Homo sapiens: one gene and its partners. The protein of the gene in region 3 purifies or fractionates together with the protein of the main gene of each other region. This does not show direct contact. Each region holds a gene or a part of one and is shown on either strand. Other genes may lie near its edges. The genes, in order: EXOG, ATP13A2, PBXIP1, PACC1, MYO1D, PNKD and LEMD2.

Region 1 (3,500 bases), on a different chromosome or scaffold from region 3:
TAACCCTATTAAAAATGTTAGTTTTACATATGATGACGAGTCTTTAAAATAAATTCATTCAGTAATTCTGGTCCTTGAAATTTATCCTAAGGAATTGATACAACGTTGCATTATATAAGAAATGTTAACATAAGCCCAATTGTCCTGCAAGAGGAATGGTTAAATAAAGTATATCATCTTGTTGGAATGATACATAATTCTTGAAAGCTGGTTGGGAACTATGGCATAAAAAAAGTTTTAAGTTCATGAAATTTGAATTCCAGAATGTACTCTGAGCGCACATAAAGAAAAATGTAGATAGTTTTGTTAGTGTATGTGATTTTTAAGTTTTTTCTGTGCAGTAAGCAAACTGGGAAAATAATTGTTTATATGCTTATAATGTTTTGTGCCATGTTCTTGTTTAATTTCTCAAATGCAGTTTTTCTTGGTATCTTTCATAGGAATTGATATGATTTGCTGCTGTCTTACATGTATATATGTGAGAATATCATACATTTTTTTATTTGTTTTTCAGAATAGAAATGTACTGTCGAGAGCTGACAGAAAGGTTTGAAGATGTTTGGGTGGTATCTGGGCCTTTGACCTTACCTCAGACTAGAGGCGATGGAAAGAAAATAGTTAGTTACCAGGTAAGGATGTTTAATAGTCAGGTTTATGTTATCTGTATGAGATTATAATCTCACTTTCCATTCTGCTTTTTATTTTTATTTTTATCATTCAAAAAAAATTTTGCATTCTACTTTTTAATTTCACTTATTCAACAATATTTATTGAACACCTATTAGGAATGATAGGCATAGGGAATATAGTGATGGATAAAAGCAACTATTGACTTCAAGGAACTCACGGTTTAGAGTGGAAAACAGATGTTAACAATTAATTACATTAAAGTGTGACATGCTGTAATAGAGGTAAACACACACAGTGTGGTCTTGTGAAAGGACTGATGGGCTCTACTCATATGAGTCAGGAACGCTTAAAAGAGGAAGTGATATTGAGCTATACCTTGACAGATAAGAGTCAGGAGTGGACCCTGAGGATTCCAGAGGATGGAGCAGGATGAGCACAGGACATTTGTGGTCAACATCAGGGTTTTGAGATTTATATATCATTCATAAAAATTGGAGCTTATGGTACAAAACAGTGTGGGTGGCTCAAGGGGTATGAAGAGTTCCATAACAACAGGTGGACGGGTGAGATAATATGCGACTTTCTATTCTATGATGAAGACTTGGGTTTTAATTTTTAGGCACTAAGAAGTCATAGATTTGTTTTAAGCGTGGGAGAAATATGATATTTGGGTTTTATAAAGAGTATTTTGGCAGCAGCGTGTAAAGAGATAGGTGGGAAAAGGGAGCATTTGAAGAAGAGATTAGAGGCAAGGAGATGAGTTAGGACATACAAGCAGTTGGAGTGAGGAATAATAGAGGAACACAGGAAAGAGTAACCATGAATAAATAACTTGTTTGAGTGAGGAAGAGGGAGAAGTTCCAGGATAACAACTAGATTGCAGACCAGGCTCAGTGGCTCATGCCTGTAATCCCAGCACTTTGGGAGGCCGAGGCAGGCGATCACGAGGTCAGGAGTTCGAGACCAGCCTGGCCAATATGGTGAAACCCCGTCTCTGCTAAAAATACAAAAATTATCTGGGTGTGGTGGCGTGTGCCTGTAGTCCCAGCTACTTGGGAGTCTGAGGCAGAAGAATCGCTTGAACCCAGGAGGCGGAGGTTGCACTGAGCCGAGATCGCACCACTGCACTCCAGCCTGGGCGACAGAGCAAGACTCCACCTCGAAAAAAATAAAAATAAAAATAAAATAAAAACAACCAGATTACAGTGTTACAGTGAGTTGAATAAATGGGAAGAAAAGCTTTTCTTCTAGAAGCTTCTTTTTTTTAATATGCAAGATATGTGAGCACTTTTATAGACTGAAAGAGAGATTAAAGATAGGAGAGTGTAATTAGTGGTGTGAGAGCTTCAGACATCTAATGTTGCTGGGAAATTCTTAGCTAGCCTTTCATATTGGCAATTTACAAAGTGGTATACCTGAAGAGCAGGTGTTCTTAGAAAAAGTTTAACATTTAATCTTATCATGCAGAAATATCCTGAGGATTCTTCCAAGAGGGTGGCTGAAATGTTATACTATACTGTGAGGCTTACAGAGGGCAGGGAACAGGTGGAGTGAAGCAGAAGAGGTGGTAGAGTGAGTAAAAAGAAGCACTGAAGGACTTGCTAATAAGGCCAAAGAGGAGGGGAGGGAACACCTAGCTCAGCTCTGGAAATAAAGTAGATATTTAATAAATGCTGGTTAGGTAAATGATTACTTAAGTCTGTGATAAAATTTAATAACCTGAGGAACAGATTGAGGAACCACCCCCCCCCCAAAAAAAAACCAAAACTTTTAGAGTATATTCTGTCCATTTGACTTGCTTATTATCAGCCTGTCTAGATCAGATGTGCAGTAATGTCCAAGCATCCAAGGATTTGTATAGGTCCATATGAATAGCCCACTTTCTCTTTTTCCACACAAAATTATGACCCAACTACTTCTTTTTGTTAAGTGGAAATGATAGAGTAGTTGTTTTCAAGGATTTGTACATCCTTGGAAAATTCCAGTAGATATGGGAGTGAAGGAAGTCAAAGGAATTAGTATTTTAAAATTAATTCATTTAATATCTCTCCTCCCATATTAATTTCTCTCCTCTGATTAACTTGCTAATTTAATTTTAGTATATTTTATAGTCTTAGGAGAAAAAAAGGCTTAAAGCCCCCTGTATTATTTTTCAAATATTAATTATTCTTGGTCTTTGTTAAATCCTGTTTATTTTATGTCAGAAAAGAGGCTCTTCTAGCTTTGACTTGTATATCTTAAATGGTTAAATTACAGTTTTATTTGTGCTTTGTTTTTATAAAATTGAAAAATTTATATCACTAGCCTACTGTGTAGTAGAACAAAAATTTGTACAATGTTTAAAACGAAAAATTAACCAATAATTACAAGCATTTCACTACATAGATTTTTGTGTGGCTATTTCTGTAAAATATGTGTTGCCCAAATGCCGTAGTGGAAAATGTATTGTTTTTCTTAAGTTGGATATAATTTTTAAAAATAGAACTGATAAAAATATATCTTCTAGTTGTTTCTGCTGAAAAGGCCCAGAAGAATTGGTATGTCATTAGCAATGAACACATCTTGAGACCCAGATATTTGTTTCTAAAAAGCATCTCCTGAAAAGACTCAGCGCTTAGAGAAATGACTGATTTAAGGGGTGGTACAGGGAGAGTACAAAATGGAACATCATATATCAGAAAGCCAAGGAAGTGCTCAGACAAATGGTGGGGATATGTCAGAAGGACATGTGAATCAGCTTGAAGGAGCTCCCACTTACTGTATCTGGTGCTATTGAATATCAAAATAAAATGGATTATAAACCTATTGAATTAAATAAGAATACATACTCAATAAATATGTAAATACATAGGGTGTAAAGAAAAGCTTCT
Region 2 (3,500 bases), about 140 Mb from region 3:
CTCCTCACCTCAGGCAATCCACCCACCTCTGCCTGCCAAAGTGTTGGGATTACAGGTGCGAGCCACTGCGCCTGGCCTACGATTTGTGATACAAATACAATGCCAGCCAGAAAACTTCCCTGGAAAAAAACCACTATCCTGTGGTTTTTAGTAAACTCTCTCCAGTATCTACCACCAAAATATAACACATCTCAGAGAAAGAAATACTTGCACACATCAAGAGACACAGGACAAAGCTGCTCCTGTGGCGTCCTTTGCAATGGCTGGAAAATCACATTCTAAATACTCATGGCGAGCGGGCCGGTTGAGTCAGTTACGATACATCCGTATTGTGGACTCTCATGCAGCCATGAGGTGGGGCCATCCGTGCTTGTGGAAGGATGCCAGGAGAAAAAGCAAAGTATGGAACAATACACAGCATACAATCCCACGTTCAGAACAAAAGGAGAGGCAAATCAGCCCATGTGCACACACGTAATGCAGAAAAAGGCGTGGAAGACACCTCACACCCTTCACAGTGGCTGCCCTGGGGAGGGGAAGGGAAGGGGACTGTGGGGTAGTGAATGGGGACCGCAGTCTCTCACTCTGGGAGAGGGCTTCCCACTCTCCTGTGCCATCTGGAATCTTTATGACCTGAAGGTGGGCACTGGTATAGAAACAGCTCAGATGCAGCCAGGTGCTATGGTTCATGCTTGTAATCCCAGCACTTTGGGAGGCTGGGGCGGGCAGATCACTTGAGGTCAGGAGTTCAAGACCAGTCTGACCAACGTGGTGAAACCCCATCTCAACTAAAAATACAAAATTAGCCGGGTATGGTGGCGCACACCTGTAATCCCAGGTACTTGGGTGGCTAAGGCAGGAGAATCGCTTGAACCCAGGAGGTGGAGGTTGCAGTGAGCTGAGATCGCACCATGGTACTCCAGCCGGGGCAACAAGAGTGAAACTCCATCTCAAAAAAAAAAAAAAAAAAAAAAAAAGGAGAAATAGCCCAGATGCACTGGGTGGCTGGCCATTTATGCTGCACCTCTCACGCTCCTAAGCACTTTGCACAACTCTGTCCAGGAGGAGTGACTGACAGCCATCTTACAGAAGAAGGAACTGAGGCACGGAGATGATACGTGGTAACGGCCCAGGGGTGTGAGGTTAGCAAGTCCTAAAGCTGGGATTGTTGCTTGAGAGAAAAAGGAAGAGGAGGCGGAGCGCTGGCACACGCCTGAAATCCCAGCACCTTGGGAGGCCGAGGTGGGCAGATAACCTGAGGTCAGGAGTTCAAGACCAGCCTGGGCAACATAGTGAAACTCCATCTCTACTAAAAATAAAAAATTAGCTGGGCGTGATGGTATGCACCTGTGGTCCCAGCTACTCAGGAGGCTGAGGCACAAGAATCACTTGAACCTGGGGGGTGGAGGCTGCAGTGAGCTGAGATCATGTCACTGCACTCCAGCCTGGACAACAGAGTGAAACTCCGTCTCACAAAAAAACAAAAAAGGAAAAGGAAACTCAAATGAAAACTTTTGCCGCAGGGCAAAGGGTTGGATGGCAGGGGAGGAAGGAAGCTGCAGGCCAGGGGCTGGGGGCTCACCTGTCAGAGAGCTCTCATTCACCATGCACTCGCCGGCCACCAGGGCGGCATCACAGGGCATCAGCCCACCCTCCTGGGGCAGCACCAGGCAGTCTCCGGGCACTAGCTCACTGGAGTCCACCCACTCTTCCTCTGCAGGCAGGCAGGAGAGGAGCTCAGCTAGGTGGGGCCAGCCCCAGCCATGCCCCCCCACCCTCCCACTCCTGCCCCCGCCCCCTGGGCCCTAGCTCCTCACCTCCCCCTGGCCGGCACACGCACACCCGCATGGACAACTTGACCATGTCCCTTAGAGTCTGGCTTTGCTGTGGGCAGGGGACAAGAGGGCCGTGAGTGGGTGGGGGCCCCTGGGGACCCACCTGTCCCGTCCCCACCCACCTTATGGCACTCACCTTTCTGGTCTTGTACAGCGACAGGCAGATGGAGATGGAGGAAATGAGGAAGATGCACAGGGCGTACCAGTAGTAGTGGTCAGCCAGCCACAGCGCGATGCTGAAGGCCTGGAACCCATAGTAGGGGTTCAGTGCCTGGGGGAGGGGCGGGAGGCAGCGTCAGGGCCGCGTCCCCCAGGGCAGCCCAGCCACAGGCTGGGTCTCCTGTGCCCATGGGAGCAGAGGGCCCAGTGGCTGCCAAAGGACTGGAGCCAGGCCTTTCTCCTGGTCAATCCCATCCCCACCCAACCAGACATCCCCAGGGCCCTCAGTTTCTCCGCTCTAAAGAGGACAAGGGTTTATGACCAGCCTGGGCAACATGGCGAAACCCCATATCTACAAAAAATACAAAAATTAGCCTGATGGGGTGGCCTGTGCCTACGCTCCCAGCTACTCAGGAGGCTGAGGTGGGAGGATCACTTAAGCTGGGGAGGTGGAGGGTGCAGTGAGCTGAGATCGCGCCACTGCACTCCAGCCTGAGTGACAGAGGGAGACCCTGTCTCAAAAAAAATAAACAAATAAATAAATAGGATAAGGGTATTTACTGAACCCCCACTACACGCCAAGTGCTTTATCTAAGTGTCATACAATGGCAATGACAATTCTACAAGGCCGGTACCACCATTAGCTCCATTCTACAGATGAGGAAACCAAGGCATGGACAGGTGAAGCCACTGGCCTAAAACCACATAGTTCCAGCCAGGTGCGGTGGCTCATGCCTATAATCCCAGCACTTTGCAAGGCCGAGGCAGGTGGGTCATCTGAGGTCAGGAGTTTGAGACCAGCCTAGCCAACATAGTGAATCCCCGTATCTACTAAAAATACAAAAAAAAAAAAAAATTAGCTGGGCGTGGTGGCAGGCGCCTGTAGTCCCAGCTATGTAGGAGGCTCAGGCAGGAGAATCACTTGAACCCAGGAGGTGGACATCGCAGTGAGCCGAGATCACGCCATTGCACTCCAGCCTGGGCAACAAGAGCAAAACTCTGTCTCAAAAAAAAAAACAACAAACAAAAAACAAAAAACCACATAGCTTCTAAGTGACAGACTGATTTCTATGGGGCCAGACTCAAAGATCTCTTTCATGGTGCCTGCCCCCGATCAGAGGGCTGGGATGTTCACACTTTATTCTAGTTGTGTCCAGGTCACTGGCTTCTCTTTGTCCCTGTGTGACCTTGGCCATGTCACAGCCTCCAACTGAAGCTTGGATTTCTCAGGTGTGAACAGTGCAGTCCCAGGCCCAACCCACGGGACTGTTGGGAGCATGAAAGTGGAGGACGCACAGAGAGGACCCAGGCTCTAGGGCGTGTCTCTGGGGACCCCATAGATGCTCAGGCTGCGTGGATTTGCCTCTTGGCCTCCAATCCCTATGAGTGGGGCCCCAATCTGTGACCCAAGCCTTGGGCAGAACCTCCAATTCCTGGACCTGGTCTCTCTGGCTAGGCTGACTGCGGCAGGTTCTGAGATGACGATCCACTATGGAGAAGGGGACA
Region 3 (2,520 bases):
TGAATTCAATGAACTAATACCTTTAAGCCCTTAAACAGAGTTACATATTCGCTTGCTAAATAATACAGAAATCAGTTACAGCCCCTTCTAGAACCTGTAGTCCCCCGCCTCCTGCCTGAGCAGTCACACCACATTATTCTGTCTCCTGTACTTCCTGGGCATTTCCAGGGTCATCAAAAAGCCCAGTGTATTGCCGAAGGGACTAAGGTTAGATCTCAGGAAGGACTTCCTAGAGAATAGCCAAGGGGAGTCTGGTCATCCTGGGAGAGCTGGCCAGTGGAGCAGGCGCTGGGGTCAGTGGGGTAGGGTCTGAGATTTTGGGGACAGTGAGTAGTGGGAGAGGCGAGGTCTGGAGCAAAATGGAGCCAGGGTGCCACCTAGTGGTTCCCTCACCTCCCCAGCCCCAGAAGCTCTTCCTTCTGGGCCTGGGTTCTTTTCCCTCCTCCACACCCTTCCCTAAAGAAGGCAATAACTTTTGAGTGCCCAAAACAGGAGAGGCATTTTTCTTGCGTTGCTTTTATTTAATCACTTCCCCAGCCCTTCCATCGCCTTTTTTGAGGATAAGAAACCCAAAGTTCCCAGAGATTAACTTGCCCAAGATCACTTGGCCTGGATTTGAGCCTGAGGCTCAGACTCCAAAACCCACACTCAATTTGCTACATCTCCCAGGGGTGGGGCCAAGGCAGCTGTGAGCAAAAGGAGAAGTATCAGCTTCTCAAGGGCCTAGGGTTTGTTGGAAGGGCAAGGCAAGGGCAAAGGGGGATACAGAACAAGGGGGCAAGTACCAGTGCCTGGGATGGACCCATCCATTCAGGCAGGGGGTGTGGGGTGTCCCCTGTGCTTAGAAACCACCTAGCATCATAGCTGCAACAGCACTTTATTGGGATCTGAGTCTACAGTTCACATAGGGAGGTGAAGCCGTGGGAGAAGCAGGGGTAAAAAAAAAAAGGGGGGGGACTTCACCCCCTAGGGACAGCTGCTTCCAAACCTAACAAAACCCCAGGGTAAGTCCTCGTGCTGGGCCTCGAGCCAGCAACTCTAGTCAAATCCCAAGGCACCGGTCAGCATGTGGGTCAAGGGGCCCACTATGGGGACATACACTCAAGAGGATGAAAGCTCTTTAGCTTCAGAATCAGATTGCCTTCCCCAGACCCCACCCCAAAACAGGCTCCTCTCCCATCTCCCCCTTCACAGTGACAAAACACAAGCCCACATCCCAGGGCCTGGAGTATTTGCATGCATTTGCATAGACGGCAACGCAGGTCCAGCTAAGGCCTTTTTCTACATAAAGTGACATCAGTGCAGGGCTGGTGATTTTGCTCTACTGTGTGAAAGATATCTGAGGACACCAAACAAGCCAGGACAGAGTCCACCCTCCAGGAGTTAGATAACGCTGGGATCTTGGGCTGGGCCAGGCCAAGGCCATTCCCTGTGGGGCAGGGTGTCAGCCCCGGTGGTGGTGGTGGTGGCTATGGCTGTGCCCCTCCCTGGGCCCCGCAGCTCTTGGGCTCTGTGAGTGCTTGTCCTTCTTCCCTGACCTGTGGGGAGGAAGAGGCCTTTAGGGGACAATACCATGCAATGAAAACGGGTTCCCCAAGGAGAGAGGACCCTGCTCCTCCCAATGAAGCTGACTTGAGCAGGCACCACCAAGCATATGTGGGAAAAACCTGGTCTCCCAGGATAAAGGCTCCAGTCGGGGAGACAGGAAGATGGGGATCTCCCTCGTCCCCTGGGCCATGCAGGTAGAGGTAGGGCAGGGCAACTCAGGAGAAAGAATCCCCCTGCCCAAAAGGGGACTGCTCAGGACCACTCTGGGGTGGGCACAGGCAGCTTCCTACCCTCAAGGGAAGAAAGGAAGCGGACCTGAATGCCTTCTCTAAGGGAAGCCAGCTGGGGACCAAAAGTAAGGATACTCAAACTAATGATCCTTGCTCTTCACATCCTCCCGACTGCCTCTGTCCCACCCGACCCAACTCCCCCACAGCTGCCCACCTCTTCTTCAGTGCTTTGTCTCCAAAGAAGTGGCTGAAGATGAAGTCCTCAAAGTCATCTACTTCATCATCATCACCTGTCTGTTGCACAGCCACCTCCTCCAAGCTGTCCTCCAGGGCATCCACAAAATCCCGGAAGCGGAGGCGGTCATGACGGAAGATGCCATCCTCACCAAAGAAAGCAGGTGAGAGGGGTAGCTCCTTGGTCAGCTGCCCAGCCCAGGGCAGCCGTGCCAAGTATGTTCTTAGCAGAGAGGCCAGCTCCTGTTGCCGCACTGGGGCTAGCTCTGTGCCAAAGAAAGTCAGGCCCTCCTGCCGGGCACACTCGTCCACACCTGAGCAGCCCTGGGGTGCCCGGTACTTGGGCCTCAACAGCTCTGCCCAGGATGGCAGGGGGTCATGGCTGTCCTTAGTCCCTTCCCTCCACCGAGGTTGCTTCTGCTTTTCTCCAGAGGAGTGGAAGCTACCACTTTTCCTTGGGGGTTCCTTCGGGCCCTGTCGCTTGCCCTCCTTCTTGCTCCCCGACTCC
Region 4 (3,500 bases), about 57 Mb from region 3:
TAAAAGAAAAAGCAAAAAACAAACAAAAAGAACAGAAAAAAGGAGTTTACTCTCTAGAGGGATAGGCAGTTACAATCCAACAAGTGAGCTGGCCCCAACCTACCTCTCTGGCCTTATCCCTCACTGCTCCACTTCCCCAGTTCTCCCAGCTCTAGCTCCACCTCTACTCATCGACTTTCTGTTCTTCTGGAGTGCCCTTCTCAACCCGGGATTCCCTCACACTTACCATTCCCTCTGCTTGATTTTCTTTTCTTCCACAGCTGATGCTTCACTCATCCTAAGCCCCGAAAGCTTTTTGCTTGGCATCTGGCTTCCAACAGTGACAGAGTAGCTTGGTCACGCCATCCTTCCATGGAAGCATTTTAATTTAGAAAGACATTTTCTTGGCCAGGCGCAGTGGCTCAAGCCTGTAATCCCAGCACTTTGGGAGGCCGAGGCAGGAGGATCACCTGAGGTCGGGAGTTCGAGACCAGCCTGACCAACATGGTGAAACCCCTGTCTCTACTAAAAATACAAAATTAGCTGGGCGTGGTGGCGCATGCCTGTAATCCCAGCTACTCAAGAGGCTGAGGCAGGAGAATTGCTTGAACCCAGGAGGCGGAGGTTGCAGTGAGCCGAGATTACTCCATTGCACTCCAGCCTGGGCAACAAGAGCGAAACTCCATCTCAAAAAAAAAAAAAAAAGAAAAAAGAAAGAAAGACATTTTCTTGAGGAAGCCTCTCCTGACCCCTAACCTTTATTTGGGCACCTCTTCCTCAGTGTTCCCAGGGAGCCCTGTACGTCCCCTACTTCATCACTCTGCAATGTCATGTCTATACATCTTTTATCCTCCTAGGCTGTGAGTTCCATGAGGGCAGGGATGGGGCCAGTCTTATCCCTAACTGAATCCTTAGCCCTTCATGCTATGCCTGGAACATTCTGCATTTACATGGTGACTGATTGAACACGTCCTGATGCTATTGGTACAACACAACTCTGTCTCCCCTACCTCCCTCACAAAATCCTGAGGCTAGAAGCTAGATTAATCTCTGTTATGGACGAAACTGTATCCCCCACCCTCAAATTCAGGTTGAAGCCCTAACCCTCAATGTGAGTATATTTAGAGACAGGGACTTCAAGGATATAATTAAGGTTAAATGTGGCCATAAGGATGAGGCCTGATCCAATAGGACCAGAATCCTTATAAGAGGAGGAGACACTAGGAGCACATGCACACAGGAAAAAAGGCCATGTGAGGACACAATGAGAAGGCAGCCATCTGCAAGCCAAGGAGAAAGGCCTCACCAGAATTCAATCCTGCTGGCACCTTGATATTGGATTCTCGCTTCCAGAACTGTGAGAAATAAATTTCTGTTGTTTATGCCACTCAACTGTGGCATTTTGTTACAGCAGTCTGAGCTGACTAAGATACTCCCACAGGGCTCCCTGTGCCCTCTCTGCTCCTCAGCTGAAAATGGAGCTCCCTGAGAAGAAGTCCTATTTCCTCCACAGCCCAGCTGAGCACAAGGCTGAGAACAAGGGAAGCATCTGAACGTAAGCCCCAAAAGGTATCTGCTTGGCATCTGGCTTCCAACAGTGACAGAGTAGCAGTGTCACATCACCCTTCCACAGAAAACAATTATAAACTTTGGACAACATATTTTAAATTATTTGAAGGCACTGGGAGAATGATCAAAAGCAGGTAGAAATTGAAAGAGAGGCTACCCTTGAAAGAGAAGAACTGTACTTGGTGAGATTTATACATCTGTAGCTTTTTGCCTAAGAATACATGCCAATCCCTATAAGGCATGGTTCAGAGTGACAGGGACAAAGTTCAGGGCTGGAAGAGCAGCCAGAAAGTTAAGACAAAACCATGAAAGGGAGGGAGCCACACAGGGGGTGAAACTCCCAAATCTGCAACTAAATATATGTTCAGATCCTTGGCTGGAGAACCCAGGGGGGGCCAGCAAAAAGTAACAACTGGAAATTGAAAGAACTGCATGGAGATTTCAACTACGGCTAATGCAGGGGAGATAGGAGTTTAGAGCTTAAATCTTGCCATATTAACAATATGCCAAGAAAAAAAAATACCCTTCTGAAGATCATAACAGAATCCAGAATCTCTATATCATTCATAATGTCCAGTGTTCAATCAAAAATCACTAGACATGCTAAGAAACAAGAAAATGTGACCTGTACTCAAGAAAAAAGCAATCTATAGAAACCAACACCAAGATGACCCAGTGTTGCAATTTAGCAGAGAGAAAATTTACAGCACTTAAAGGAAAATATCTGAATAAGGAATAAAGACAAGATCAATAGAGAAACAGAAACTAATAACAATGGCCAAATATATAGAATTTCAGTTTTGCAGGATGAAAAAGCATTGTGGAGATGGATGGTGGTGATGGTTGCACAGCAATATGAAAGTGCTTAATATCACTGAACTCTACATTTTAATGAGTAAGATGATGAGTTTTACATTACGTGTATCTAACCACTGTAAAAATGTTTCATAAAATTTAAAAAAACAGATGGAAATTCCAGATCTGACAAGAAATAAATGAAATAAAAAGTTCACTGTATAGGCTTAATAGCAAAAGATGGCAGAGAAAGAGTTTGTGAACTCAAAGTTAAATCAACAGAAACTATCCAATTTGAAGAAAATATTGAAGGAAAAAAAAAACCAAATGGAGCCCGGAAAATTGTTACAGTATCTAGCAGTGTAGTGACATGTAACTGGAGACAGAAAATGGGTCACAAAAAATATCTGAGGCCGGGGGTGTGGTGGTTCACCCCTGTAATCCCAGCACTTTGGGAGGCTGAGGCAGGCGGATCACAAGGTCAAGAGATCGAAACCATCCTGGCCAATGTGGTGAAACCCCGTCTCTACTAAAAATACAAAAATGAGCTGGGCGTGGTGGTGCATGCCTATAATCCCAGCTACTCAGGAGGCTGAGGCAGGAGAATCGCTTGAACCCGGGAGGCGGAGGTTGCAGTGAGTTGAGATCACGCCATTGCACTCCAGCCTAGGAAACAAGAGCAAAACTCCATCTCAAAAAGAAAAAAAAAAAAAAAAAAGACTATTGATATTGGGTTCTAAGATGGCTGAATAGGAACAGCTCCAGTCTACAGCTCCCAGCGAGAGAGATGCAGAAGATGGGTGATTTCTGCATTTCCAACTGAGGTACTGGGTTCGTATCACTGGGGCTTGTCATACAGTGGGTGCAGGACAGTGGGTGCAGCGCACCGAGTGTGAGCTGAAGCAGGGTGAGGCATCGCCTCACCCGGGAAGCAGAAAGGGTCAGGGAATTCCCTTTCATAGCCAAGCAAAGCTGTGACAGATGGCACCTGGAAAATCGGGCCACTCCCACCCTAATACCGTGCTTTTCCAATGGTCTTAGCAAATGGCACACCAGGAGATTATATCCCGCGCCTGGCTCAGAGGGTCCCACACCCACGGAGCCTCGCTCATTGCTAGCACAGCAGTCTGAGATCCAACTGCAAGGCGGCAGTGAGG
Region 5 (3,500 bases), on a different chromosome or scaffold from region 3:
GAATGGCATCCCATGCCTGTGGCTAACCAGTCATTTAGTAAGGGAAATAAGATCACTCTGATGAGTTTAGACCAGTGAAGATTTACCTCTTGAGGCTAGGTAGATGCCAGTCACAAAGGACATGCACACTTAGAGAGGAGTAAACAAATCAGGGTTCGATTGGCAAGAAAGAAATGAGGGTAGAGGATGGCTGTTAGGTAAGCAGCCAACAGTTCCCCACAGTAGGACATTTAGATTTTATCCAGTTACTTTCCAACTTCAACATGGTTGCAGTTTATAATAATAGTAATATCTGATACTGCTGAGTGGTTTTTTTTTGTATGCTGGTGCTAGAGAGGTGCTTTATATAAATTTTCATTCAATTCTGACAACCACCCTGTAAGATATATGTTATTATGCCCATTTTATTTGTGAGGAAGTTGAGGTTCAATGAGGTTAAGTATCTTGTCCAAGGTAAAAACAAAAACCTAGGAGGAGGAGGGGCTGGCCTGGTTGTCTCCTGGACACTAGAGGAACTTGTACTCACCAGGCAGAGAGGTCCCCTTCCAGGGCCCTTCCTCAACAAGTGAGCATCAGGCCAGGTCTCTGTATCCAAACAAGAGGAGAAACTTACTGAGGAAAGAATTGGTCAAGCCTCTGCGGCTGCTGCTGTGGTAAAACTAATATAAGCAGTTACTATTGCTTTATTGCGAATTTCTGTTTACGCACTTGTATTTCCAATGTGATGGCCACAGCTCTAAAAGGGCAGGCGATTCATCTTTGAGCTGCCTGTACCAGTTAGTAGAGCTGACTTGTGAAATGCGTATCAAGTGAGTGAAAGAATGAAGTTATAGTCCCAGACTATTTAATAGCTTACTAAATGACTGAGGCTGGCTGTTTTGCTTTTGAGGGCCCGCCTTGCCTCACCTGGAAAATAAACCGCCTGATTATACGAGAGTGAAGTGTTGTTGCCAGCCTAAATAAGACAATTGTGGAACAAAGAGCCACAAACAACAGTAGCCAAGCATGTATCTTGGAGGCTCCCACATTCAGCACTTGCATTTGTGATCTCACATCCATGCTGTTGCCTTCACTGATCATGGAGTGGGGGATCAGCTTGTCTGAGCCAGCTCAGGACTTGCTCCCTCACTGAAGGTTCCAGAAAACGGCACAGTGCTTATTTTAGGTGATGGCTTTCACGCACAAGTGGGCTTTGTACGTGCTGAATAATGTTGCAACTCGTGAAATCATTTTTATTTTCTCTGGAGACTCACCATCCCCTCAAGTGATTTACTATGAAGGCAAAACCTTGGTATAACTTAGTTTTATAATTGTTGAATTTTAATGCTCATAGGAAATATCTGTAACTTCAGTTTTTCATTTTCATCCCCAGTCTTCTATCAATGATGCTGCCGAATTCAGAGTTGTTGCTGATGCCATGAAAGTCATTGGCTTCAAACCTGAGGAGATCCAAACAGTGTATAAGATTTTGGCTGCTATTCTGCACTTGGTGAGTAGGGACACCTCTCAGAATGTATTGTCTTCTGCTGAGAACAGGATGCTTTCTCAGAAGATTTTGTTTTTTCCCTGTAGATTTAAAAAGTATTCAGAGAAAATTTTGTACGTATTTTGAAGAAATTACTATGTCTGTGGTTCTTGCCATCATTTTATAATATTATGAGGGATTTTCCAAGCTACTATAGGGTTGGAGACTACTACTTCAGTTGATTGTCTTACTGGTATTGTCAAACTTTGAACTGGTTAATTTTAAGGATAAAGGAATTCAGCAGTGATGTGACTACTAGTGGTATAAATTTCTAGTGGCATTTGAAACATAGAATCATAGGTTATCGGAACTGGATTTTTAATCATCTCATTTTACAGATTGGGAAATAGCCCTGATGGGTGGCATGACTACCTCAAAGGCACAGCCAGCTCATCCCAGAGCCAACACCATAGACCACTTTTGGGCCACTTGTTTCCCACTATACCACACCAAACTTAGAAGTGAAGAACTGTGTGTTAGATTTCTTTCATTAACATTTATATAATTAGAGATACTTAAAATACACTGAACATATAATCTTACAATAAGAATGACAACATGGATTCAAATCTGGAATAAAAATTACTTTTCACTTAATATAGCAAGATTTAACTCTAAATGAATCAGAAATGTGCAGGATCTTTATGAAAAATATTATATAGCAATATAAACAATAAATGTTCCTGACTAGGAAGACTTTAGTATTATAAATTGTCTCATCTGTTTGAATCAGTTTTTAAATACAGTGCAGCAGTCCTTTTCAGAATCCAAACAAGAATTTTATTTTTTGTTGTTTTGTTTTCTTTTTGAGATGGAATCTCGCTCTGTCACCCAGGCTGGAGTGCAGTGGTGCAATCTAGGCTCACTGCAAGCTCCACCTCCCGAGTTCATACCATTCTCCTGCCTCAGCCTCCTGAGTAGCTGGGACTACAGGCGCCTGCCACCACGCCTGGCTAATTTTTTTTATTTTTAGTAGAGACGGGGTTTCACCATAGCCAGGACAGTCTCGATCTCCTGACCTCGTGATCTGCCCATCTCAGCCTCCCAAAGTTCTGGGATTACAGGCGTGAGCCACTGTGCCTGGCCTTTATTTTGTTTTTAACTTGACCTGTTGATTCTAGAATTTACCTGGAAAAAGATCAAATAAAGTATATTAAAGAAGTGTCGTATAGGGTAGGGTAAGGGAGGAGAGGGAACATGACTAGTTCTACCAAACTTAAAATGATAGTAAAAGCTAGAGTACTTTATAACTTTGCACAAGTTCAGCACCAGATCAACAGATTAATCAACTGATTGGTTAATGTGCTGGACATTTGGTAGATGGTTATAAGTATGTATTGCTTATTGAATGAGTGGAATATAAATAGACTCAAACACTTGAGGAGATTTAACATATTAAAAAGGTGACATTTCAGCTGGGCGGGGTTGCTCACACCTGTAATCCCAGCACTTTGGAAAGTTTGAGGTGGACAGATTGCTTGAACCCAGGAGTTCCAAGACCAGCCTGGGCAACATGGCAAAACCCCATCTATACAAAAAATACAAAAATTAGCCAGGCATGGTGGCACGCATCTGTAGTCCCAGCTATTTAGAGGGGCTGGGGGTGGAAGGATCGCTTAAGCCTGGGACGTTGAGGCTGCAGTGAGCCATGGTGCACCACTGCATTCCAGCCTGGGTGACAGACCCTGTCTCAAAAAAAAGGTGACATTTCAAATCAGAAAAAGCTAGACTGTTCAATAAGTCCCGTTAGAGCAACTAATCATGTGAAAAATAAAGTTAGATTCTTACTTGATACCATGTACCAAAATCAATTGTGGATGGATTAAAAAGTTTAAGGAAAAAGGCCAGGCGCGGTGGCTCACGCCTGTAATCCCAGCACTTTGGGAGGCCGAGGTGGGTGGATCATGAGGTCAGGAGGTCGAGACCATCCTAGCTAACATGGTGAAACCCTGTCTCTACTAAAAATACAAAAAAT
Region 6 (3,500 bases), on a different chromosome or scaffold from region 3:
TGCCCAGGCTGGAGTACAATGGCATGATCTCAGCTCACTGCAACCTCCACCTTCTGGGTTCAAGTGATTCTCCTGCTTCAGCCTCCAGAGTAGCTGGGATTACAGGCACTCACCGCCACTCCCAGTTAATTTTTTTTTTTTTTTGTACTTTTAGTAGAGATGGGGTTTCACCATGTTTGGTCTGGCTGGTCTCAAACTCCTGACCTCAGGTGATTCCCCCCCACCGCCCTCGGCCTCCCAAAGTGCTGGAGTTACAGGTGTGAGCCACCGCACCAGGCCCAGTTTCCTCATTTTGTAAGATGGGACTGGAGTTGACATGGACTGAACCTGCAGTCCATCCCCTCCTCCATCTGCAAAACTGTAGGTATACATACAGCTCTTTGAGGAAGAGAGTTAGCTCTCATGAGCTTTTGGAAAGGGTCCATGGTGCAGAAAAGGTCAAGCACTACAGCCAAGAGGTCTCTTCCATATCCAGTGATCCAGTGTGATAGGGTTGAGCTCTCCCTTTCCCCACCCAACTCCTGAGCCTTCACTAGTCTATTGCATCCGTCCCCGGAAACTGCTGCAGTAAAGTGTATTTGATTACCTTGGAAAAGGTGGGACAGCCCAAGCCAGAATGCAGAAGGAAGAAGTGGATACTTTGGGCAGAGCCACACATACTCCTGGAGCCATACAGGGTTTTAACTTCTAGACATAAACTTTATTACATTTATAGTTGTATCCCTTTGTGTGATATAGTTAGGATTTCTCTATTAAGTAATTAATCCTAACTATATCCTTGGGCTGATTTGATTTCTGCCCCCACCCGACAGACTGACCCTTGTCCCCCTTCCCCATTCCAGCTCAAGGCACTTAATATTACAAAGAAGGCAGTGGCTGGCTGGAGAGATGGGCCTCAAGTCAGAAATCCCCCAGTGCAACTTAAGACAAACAGAGAGAAGTCACCTTCCTCTTAGGACCCTCCCTGGGTTAGCAGAAGGAAAGAACCCAGAAGTCTTCAGTACCACAGTAGGCTTCGGTATCTCCCTAGCCAGGTGAGGGACCCCCAGGCATTCTCCCTGCCCGCACCGAGTCTCTCTTCACCCTGGCTACTTCCTGGCCACACGTATGACTCTGCCCCTTACTTTCTGCTCTGAGCTGCCTGAATACAGGAAGCAAGAGTTCACTCTGACCAGAGATCCAGAAGCCTGCAAGGAGGCCCCAGCAGCTTTCAAGAATGGGGAGCAGATGGCCACATGTGGCCTGCTCTGTCTTATAGCGTCACAAGCCAGGAGCAAGCCCAGGGGAGATGCTGTTCCATGCTGGCCTGTATAGGTTACTTTGCTCGTTCTGTTATCTGTCCCCCATCCCTAACCCAGATAAACAATACATATGTCACTGAAACAAGAAGGGATTGAAGCAAGGAGACCCATGGGCACAGATCTCTTCTACCTTCCTGAGCTAAAAGATGCCAAGCCAAAGGAATACAGGATAATGGCCTATGTGTCCAGGAGGCCGGGGACAAAGCTCTCTGGCTTTGCTGGGGGAAGAAATAGCTCCAACTACGTAGTCAAGAAGCCTGTGACAGAGGTGGGAGGGGAACCTCGTGACCTTGAAGTCACTTCTACCTTTCATATTCCCTTCTAGCTATCGAATAGGCTCTTTTCATATTCCTCACAACCCCAGCTGTTAGGAAGAATGTGGTGTCATACAGTAGGTGGCGGGGAGAAGACACATCTTCAGCCTAGTCCCTGCCAAGCCCACCAAGAGCAACAGTTAGTCCCTAGCTCCTCCGTCCCCACCAAGTACCCACACATCCATAGCCAGAGAGGCCACCTGTCTCCAGGACAGAAAGGAAACTGGGCATGTTACTCAAGGGGAAGGAAAGGGGCCTAAAGCCCAGACCACAGTCATAGGGCCCAGCCCTCTAGCTTGGAAGGGAGAGCCCAGGATCGGGTGAAAATGGGGGCTTGCTCCTTAATTGCGATCCCCCATCAGCTGCAGCACAAAGGTGAAGATGTAGATGATGTCTGTGTAAATCTGCAGGGCGCCAGTGATGTAGTCCTCGGGGCTGATGGTGTGCTTCCGGTTCCCCAGGACCAGCTGTGTGTCGTAAGCCAGGAACTGCAAGGATAGGGAAGCCAGAAGTGAGAACTCAGGCATCAGTGTCCAGAGCTCATTTTTGGTCAGCAGATTTGTCTTGGGGGCCTATGCGCCACACAGTGCTTAGGGCCACATTAACGCACAGCATAACATATGGGCTCTATACTGTAGCTGCTCACAGTCTAGGAAAGGAGGCAGACACACCGTTCTCAATATGGCTGACTAGTGTTCTAATAGCAGGCAGCTTGAACAAGAGATGGCAAGAGTGCCCACAAAAATCAATGGAATCTCTGGACAGTAGTGAGAGGAATGGCCTGCTATGGCCCCATTCCCTGCCTCCCAGGCAGTCTAAATTCATGCCCCCTTCCCTAGATTCCTCCCCTCATCCCCTCAGCTCCCCTTCCTAGAGTGGGGCTGGGACTTACCAGGGTGAAACAAATGGCCCCCAGAGCAGCATAGAGCATGTGGAGCCAGTAAACCTGGAGAAGAAGGGGACAGAGAATGGCATTAGAAACCTCAGCAAACCACAGGCCCACAGGCCCCAGCTTCCCCCGGGATAGTGGCATGAGAGTGGGTAGAGCTGGGAAGCTAGCTCTCCATGAAAGGCTACTGCCTTTCCAGATCTTGGAGGAAATTAAGACTGGTGATATATCCAGCAGAGAAAGCAGAGGCCATCCTGCAATGGCTGTATAAAACCAATCTCCAAAGCCAGTCAAGGTACACAAGTGTCTACTATACTTCTAGAAAAAAAGCAGTTGAGTTACAGCTCTGAAAGGGGCAGACCCAGCATTCAATAGACCAGTTCCTACAGCCCAGCCTGGGAGGGGTAGACTAAGGAAGAAGGGAGGCCCCCCAACCCCTCTGGTGAGTATCAAAATCCGGGAGCACCCACAGGACAGCCCACATGACATGCCCACAGGTGGCCGTCCACAGAAGGACAGAGCTGGCCCATGGGCAGGCAGCCCTCGTGTCCCCATCCTTCCCCTTCGGCACTGTTCTCCCCCAGCTGAACAGAATAAAGGAAATAATTGGATCCAGAGACCCCCGCAAGGTCCCTTCCACCTAGGCCCATCATCTCAGTCCTCTGGGTTCCTCTCCCAGTCTGCCTCCGAGAACCTGATTCTCAGCTGCCAGCCAGATTGAACCCACCCCTTCCCCTAGGAGTGCAGTGATGCAGTCCAGGGCTTCAGGTGCTCTGGCTCCAAGGCCGCCCATCTCCACACAGAGAGTCTACCCTCACCCAGAAGGATGCTGCCTCCACGTTGGTGCCTTTGCTAGCCAGTCGAGAGGTTCTGGAGGTCAGAGCCTGCCCCGGGGACCTTTGGGGCCTGCGAGACCATGCTATATAGGAAGTCTGCCCTGAGCACTGGGTTCCCTGACCCCAGCTCTCCTGGGACACTCACGTATTGGAAGTAGAG
Region 7 (3,500 bases), on a different chromosome or scaffold from region 3:
GGGAAGGCAGCCTGGAGGGTGGCAGAGCCGCTCAGGATGACCATATTGAAAGTGGGTCCTGAGAAATCAGGACACTTGGGATGCCAGCCATTCCAGCATGCAGCCTCAAGAGCATGATATTCTCGCCCTGGGTCACCTAGCTGGAAGAAGGCTCTGGTGTCCCCACCTCTGCAGGTCCTGACACCTCCTGGCCAGAGACCATGGTGGAGGCGCCGTGGCTGGGGTCTGGCCTCGGAGAGCCTGGTGGTTTTCATTCCCCATGAGCCTCACGGATTCCCCATGAGCCTCATGGATGCCCCATGATCTTTACACTTAAACAGCTTATGTGCCTCCTTGTCACCGAGGAAAAGTGCAACCTCCCAGATTCTGTCTTTCAGTTCTTGCCATGCAATTGCAAAGCTAGTGATTCAGTAAACATTTCCATTTCTCTATGCTGGGAGGTGGGAATCCAATTTACAGTTTAATCTCCTGCATGCTGAGAGAGGCTGTCAAAGACCTGACAGGGGGACGTTGCTTTAGCGGTAGGGGTTCAAGCCTGCTGCCGTCTTTAAAGCTTTATTCATTCTAAGTAGCCAATGTGGGAAATTTCTGGAAAGAATGCAGCCAGGATACCAAGCCTATTCTATAAGCAAGTAGAGGCCTTGCGTCCCCACTTTCCTTCGCTTCCTCCTGTTTGAAGTGGGGCTTGCACTGCCTCTCCTTGGAGCTTTCCAACATGTTCAGAGCCCTGTGTCCTGTTTCAGGTTGAAAGGAGAAGACCAGTCTGAATTGGTGACGACTGTGGACAAGGTGGTCTGCCTGGAATCTGCCCACCCCCGCATGGGTGTTGGCTGCCGCCTGAGCCGGGCCTTGCTCACTGCTGTCACCAACGTGCTCATCTTCTTCTGGTGTAAGTCCTCGGCCGCCTTCCCTCCCCTTCTGTGCAGTCAAGCATACTCCTAGGCATGAATGATGAGCTATAGAAATTCCAGGCCCGGAGGGTTCATTTCTGTCTAGTGAACCTGAGGTCTGTCTCATAAAACAGAGGAGATGAACAAGTCAGCCTCTGCCCTGGGTTGTATTTACCTTTGGAGATTGGTGGCAGGAATCCGTGAGGATAACTAGAAAATGTCCTTGATTCAGGGCAGGGGACTGTCAGATTTCCTGAGCGGGAGCCTGGCCTGAGCAGGAGCTGGGCCCCACCCCTTCTGGGCTCTGCAGGGATCCCAGTGTGGACCAGCTTCGAGCAGGAGGCACAGCAGGGGCTTGGCCTACTTTTACTCCCTGAAAAATATAAACATCTCCTGGAGAGCTACAGATACCTGATGAAAGCAAGAAGGACTCAGGGTGCTGCACTGAAAGGAGGGCACCAGTCTTATCCCCTGACATCGGGGGCCGCCTTTGAGCAGAGACCTCAGGGCGTCTCTGAAGGCGAAAGGCCAAGTCACAGAAACCACGGCTTTCCAGAGATAGTTGGAGCTACAAATCACAGACCGCCTCAGTGTGCACACAGCTCCCTCCCCTGTGCCATCAGGCACAGAAATCATTATCGGCAGCAGCATCTCGGAATACAAAGGGCCCCGGCATGTATATATGTATGAAACACTGTGTTCTGGTTCACAAGGGAGGAGATGAAAGCCCCAGAATGAGGTTGGGAGGAGCCGAGATCTGGACGGCTGGGGATGCCGCTGTGGTGACAGCCGGTGGGAGGAAGATGATCACTTAATAATCTGTCGTCCCTCTGCATTTCTGTATCTTTTGTTTCTCGCATGCTGGCCCTGAGCCTGACACATAGTAGGTACCCAAACCCATGTGGTGGATCCCCCACAGCATCCATCACAGCATCTTGTCCATGGTGAGACCCACTGCCAAATGAAGTGTGAGGGATTAACAGTGTTTTGTTCCCTCACAGGCTTGGCTTTTTTGTGGGGGCTCCTAATTCTCCTAAAATATCGGTGGCGAAAGTTAGAAGAGGAGGAACAAGCCATGTATGAGATGGTGAAGAAGATTATAGGTGCGTGGCCCCCTGGTGAATAAAGGGTTGCCGACGCCAGCCAGAGGGTCCTTGCCCTAAATGGTGTGCTCTCTCCTGCAGACGTGGTCCAGGACCATTACGTGGACTGGGAGCAGGACATGGAGCGCTATCCATATGTAGGCATCCTGCACGTGCGCGACAGCTTGATCCCTCCACAGAGCCGGTGAGTCCCTGGCTGGGGCGCTGGGTGTGAGGTAAGATGGGGTCCGACCCCACTGAGCTCCCCAGAAGGAAACCCAGAGCCTTGCATCAGATGTCAGCTGAGGGCAGTGCAGACCCCAGGGCCAAGAGTGGCTCTGCTCCCACTCCTGCTGCTCCCCAGCATGCTCGGCTCTTTATGGCAGGATGAGCTAGAAAAGACATATGAAAGCACAATCCCACACCTCTGTAGAGAGAACACTGGCAGTGGTGATACCAGTTAGGAGGCCTTGGGCTCCAAGTAATAGCAGCTCCCTCCCCCAGGGCACAAGTAGTGAAGGATCTCCTCAGTCTCTGTAAGTGGAAGTTCAGAGCTGCATGGGCTCCAGGCACAGAACAGTCAGGTCTCCGGTTCCATTGCTCTTGTGATTCTCGTGGTCCCACACTCCTCCATGGATGTTATCAACAGACTGGGGTCCCTCATGGTTGCAGATGGTGGCCAACAGCAGCTGGGGCACTGTCTGCCTTGTCACAGCCAGCAGGGGAAAAGTAGGCCTATTGTTGTCTTATAAGCAAGAGAACATGTTCCCAGTAGCCTCCAGTGACACACTCCTTGAGGCTTTATTGACCAGAATCTCTTACATGTCTGTTTATGAATCAGTCACTGGCAAGGAGGAGGAAATTGTTTTTCAAACTTTTTAAACCATGACCTGCAGTCAAAAACACCTGTTACCTGCAACATCATGGTCCAGTTCCCACACACGCATGCGTACACTCATGCATATACATGTAATTGAAAGCAAAGTTTCACAACATGAATGGGGTCAGCTTCCAGGGCACATAGCTTCATGGGAAGGGGTGGCAGGGCCACTGTCATGTGCAGCTGCAGGGCACCTTCCACATGGGCTGTGACTGCTGGAGTTGTACACTGGGGTCCTGACAGAACCAGGGTGGGGGAGGGCAGAGTCCCAGGAGACAGCCAGCAGGGCCCCCCCCAGTGTTGGCTCTGGTTGTGGTCCCTCCCTAGCAGACACTTGCTGTGGTTTCTGGCCAGATGCTGTCATCTGCTGGGTGATGCTGAGAGCTCACCCTTGCTGAGTGCTCCCTGGGAGCCGGGCACTACTTGGAGCTCTCCACAGATGCAAACTCACTCACTTGGTCCTCACCATGGTTCACGCACACAACAGAAGTGGCCCCATTTTACCTATAAGGGAACTGAGGCACAGGGAAGTAGAGGAATGTGCTCAAGAGTCCCATGGCTAGTGGCATTTCCGTGCTCCCGCCACCAGGCTCTACTGTCAACATCATCCCTATCTGCAACCCAAGAGGAATCAGAAAAATAGAGCCG

Evidence for each region.
Region 1: the proteins of PBXIP1 (region 3) and EXOG purify together in Homo sapiens (co-immunoprecipitation; 2 studies listed by BioGRID and IntAct, with this or other methods). This does not show direct contact.
Region 2: the proteins of PBXIP1 (region 3) and ATP13A2 purify together in Homo sapiens (co-immunoprecipitation; 2 studies listed by BioGRID and IntAct, with this or other methods). This does not show direct contact.
Region 4: the proteins of PBXIP1 (region 3) and PACC1 purify together in Homo sapiens (co-immunoprecipitation; 3 studies listed by BioGRID and IntAct, with this or other methods). This does not show direct contact.
Region 5: the proteins of PBXIP1 (region 3) and MYO1D purify together in Homo sapiens (co-immunoprecipitation; 2 studies listed by BioGRID and IntAct, with this or other methods). This does not show direct contact.
Region 6: the proteins of PBXIP1 (region 3) and PNKD purify together in Homo sapiens (affinity purification with mass spectrometry; 3 studies listed by BioGRID and IntAct, with this or other methods). This does not show direct contact.
Region 7: the proteins of PBXIP1 (region 3) and LEMD2 purify together in Homo sapiens (co-immunoprecipitation; 2 studies listed by BioGRID and IntAct, with this or other methods). This does not show direct contact.

The regions. Positions count from the first base shown.
Region 1 is NC_000003.12:38,506,340-38,509,839, forward strand, and holds part of EXOG (nuclease EXOG, mitochondrial isoform 1 precursor), read left to right. Parts: intron 1-514; coding exon 515-629; intron 630-3,500. UniProt on the Homo sapiens protein: Endo/exonuclease with nicking activity towards supercoiled DNA, a preference for single-stranded DNA and 5'-3' exonuclease activity.
Region 2 is NC_000001.11:16,998,429-17,001,928, forward strand, and holds part of ATP13A2 (polyamine-transporting ATPase 13A2), read right to left. Parts: intron 2,107-3,500; coding exon 1,972-2,106; intron 1,885-1,971; coding exon 1,818-1,884; intron 1,715-1,817; coding exon 1,583-1,714; intron 1-1,582. UniProt on the Homo sapiens protein: ATPase which acts as a lysosomal polyamine exporter with high affinity for spermine. Also stimulates cellular uptake of polyamines and protects against polyamine toxicity.
Region 3 is NC_000001.11:154,943,580-154,946,099, forward strand, and holds the end of PBXIP1 (pre-B-cell leukemia transcription factor-interacting protein 1), read right to left. Parts: coding exon 1,993-2,520; intron 1,539-1,992; coding exon 1,445-1,538; 3' UTR 501-1,444; downstream 1-500. UniProt on the Homo sapiens protein: Regulator of pre-B-cell leukemia transcription factors (BPXs) function. Inhibits the binding of PBX1-HOX complex to DNA and blocks the transcriptional activity of E2A-PBX1.
Region 4 is NC_000001.11:212,387,387-212,390,886, forward strand, and holds part of PACC1 (proton-activated chloride channel), read right to left. Parts: intron 1-3,500. UniProt on the Homo sapiens protein: Chloride channel gated by pH that facilitates the entry of chloride ions into cells upon exposure to extracellular acidic pH. Involved in acidosis-induced cell death by mediating chloride influx and subsequent cell swelling.
Region 5 is NC_000017.11:32,765,625-32,769,124, reverse strand, and holds part of MYO1D (unconventional myosin-Id), read left to right. Parts: intron 1-1,372; coding exon 1,373-1,489; intron 1,490-3,500. UniProt on the Homo sapiens protein: Unconventional myosin that functions as actin-based motor protein with ATPase activity. Plays a role in endosomal protein trafficking, and especially in the transfer of cargo proteins from early to recycling endosomes.
Region 6 is NC_000002.12:218,273,519-218,277,018, forward strand, and holds part of PNKD (probable thioesterase PNKD isoform 1 precursor), read left to right. Parts: intron 1-678; exon of another isoform or gene 679-1,956; coding exon of another isoform or gene 1,957-2,103; intron 2,104-2,507; coding exon of another isoform or gene 2,508-2,561; intron 2,562-3,485; coding exon of another isoform or gene 3,486-3,500. Other genes in the region: TMBIM1 (protein lifeguard 3), read right to left, coding at 1,957-2,103, 2,508-2,561, 3,486-3,500. UniProt on the Homo sapiens protein: Probable thioesterase that may play a role in cellular detoxification processes; it likely acts on a yet-unknown alpha-hydroxythioester substrate.
Region 7 is NC_000006.12:33,775,631-33,779,130, reverse strand, and holds part of LEMD2 (LEM domain-containing protein 2), read left to right. Parts: intron 1-743; coding exon 744-889; intron 890-1,891; coding exon 1,892-1,993; intron 1,994-2,074; coding exon 2,075-2,177; intron 2,178-3,500. UniProt on the Homo sapiens protein: Nuclear lamina-associated inner nuclear membrane protein that is involved in nuclear structure organization, maintenance of nuclear envelope (NE) integrity and NE reformation after mitosis.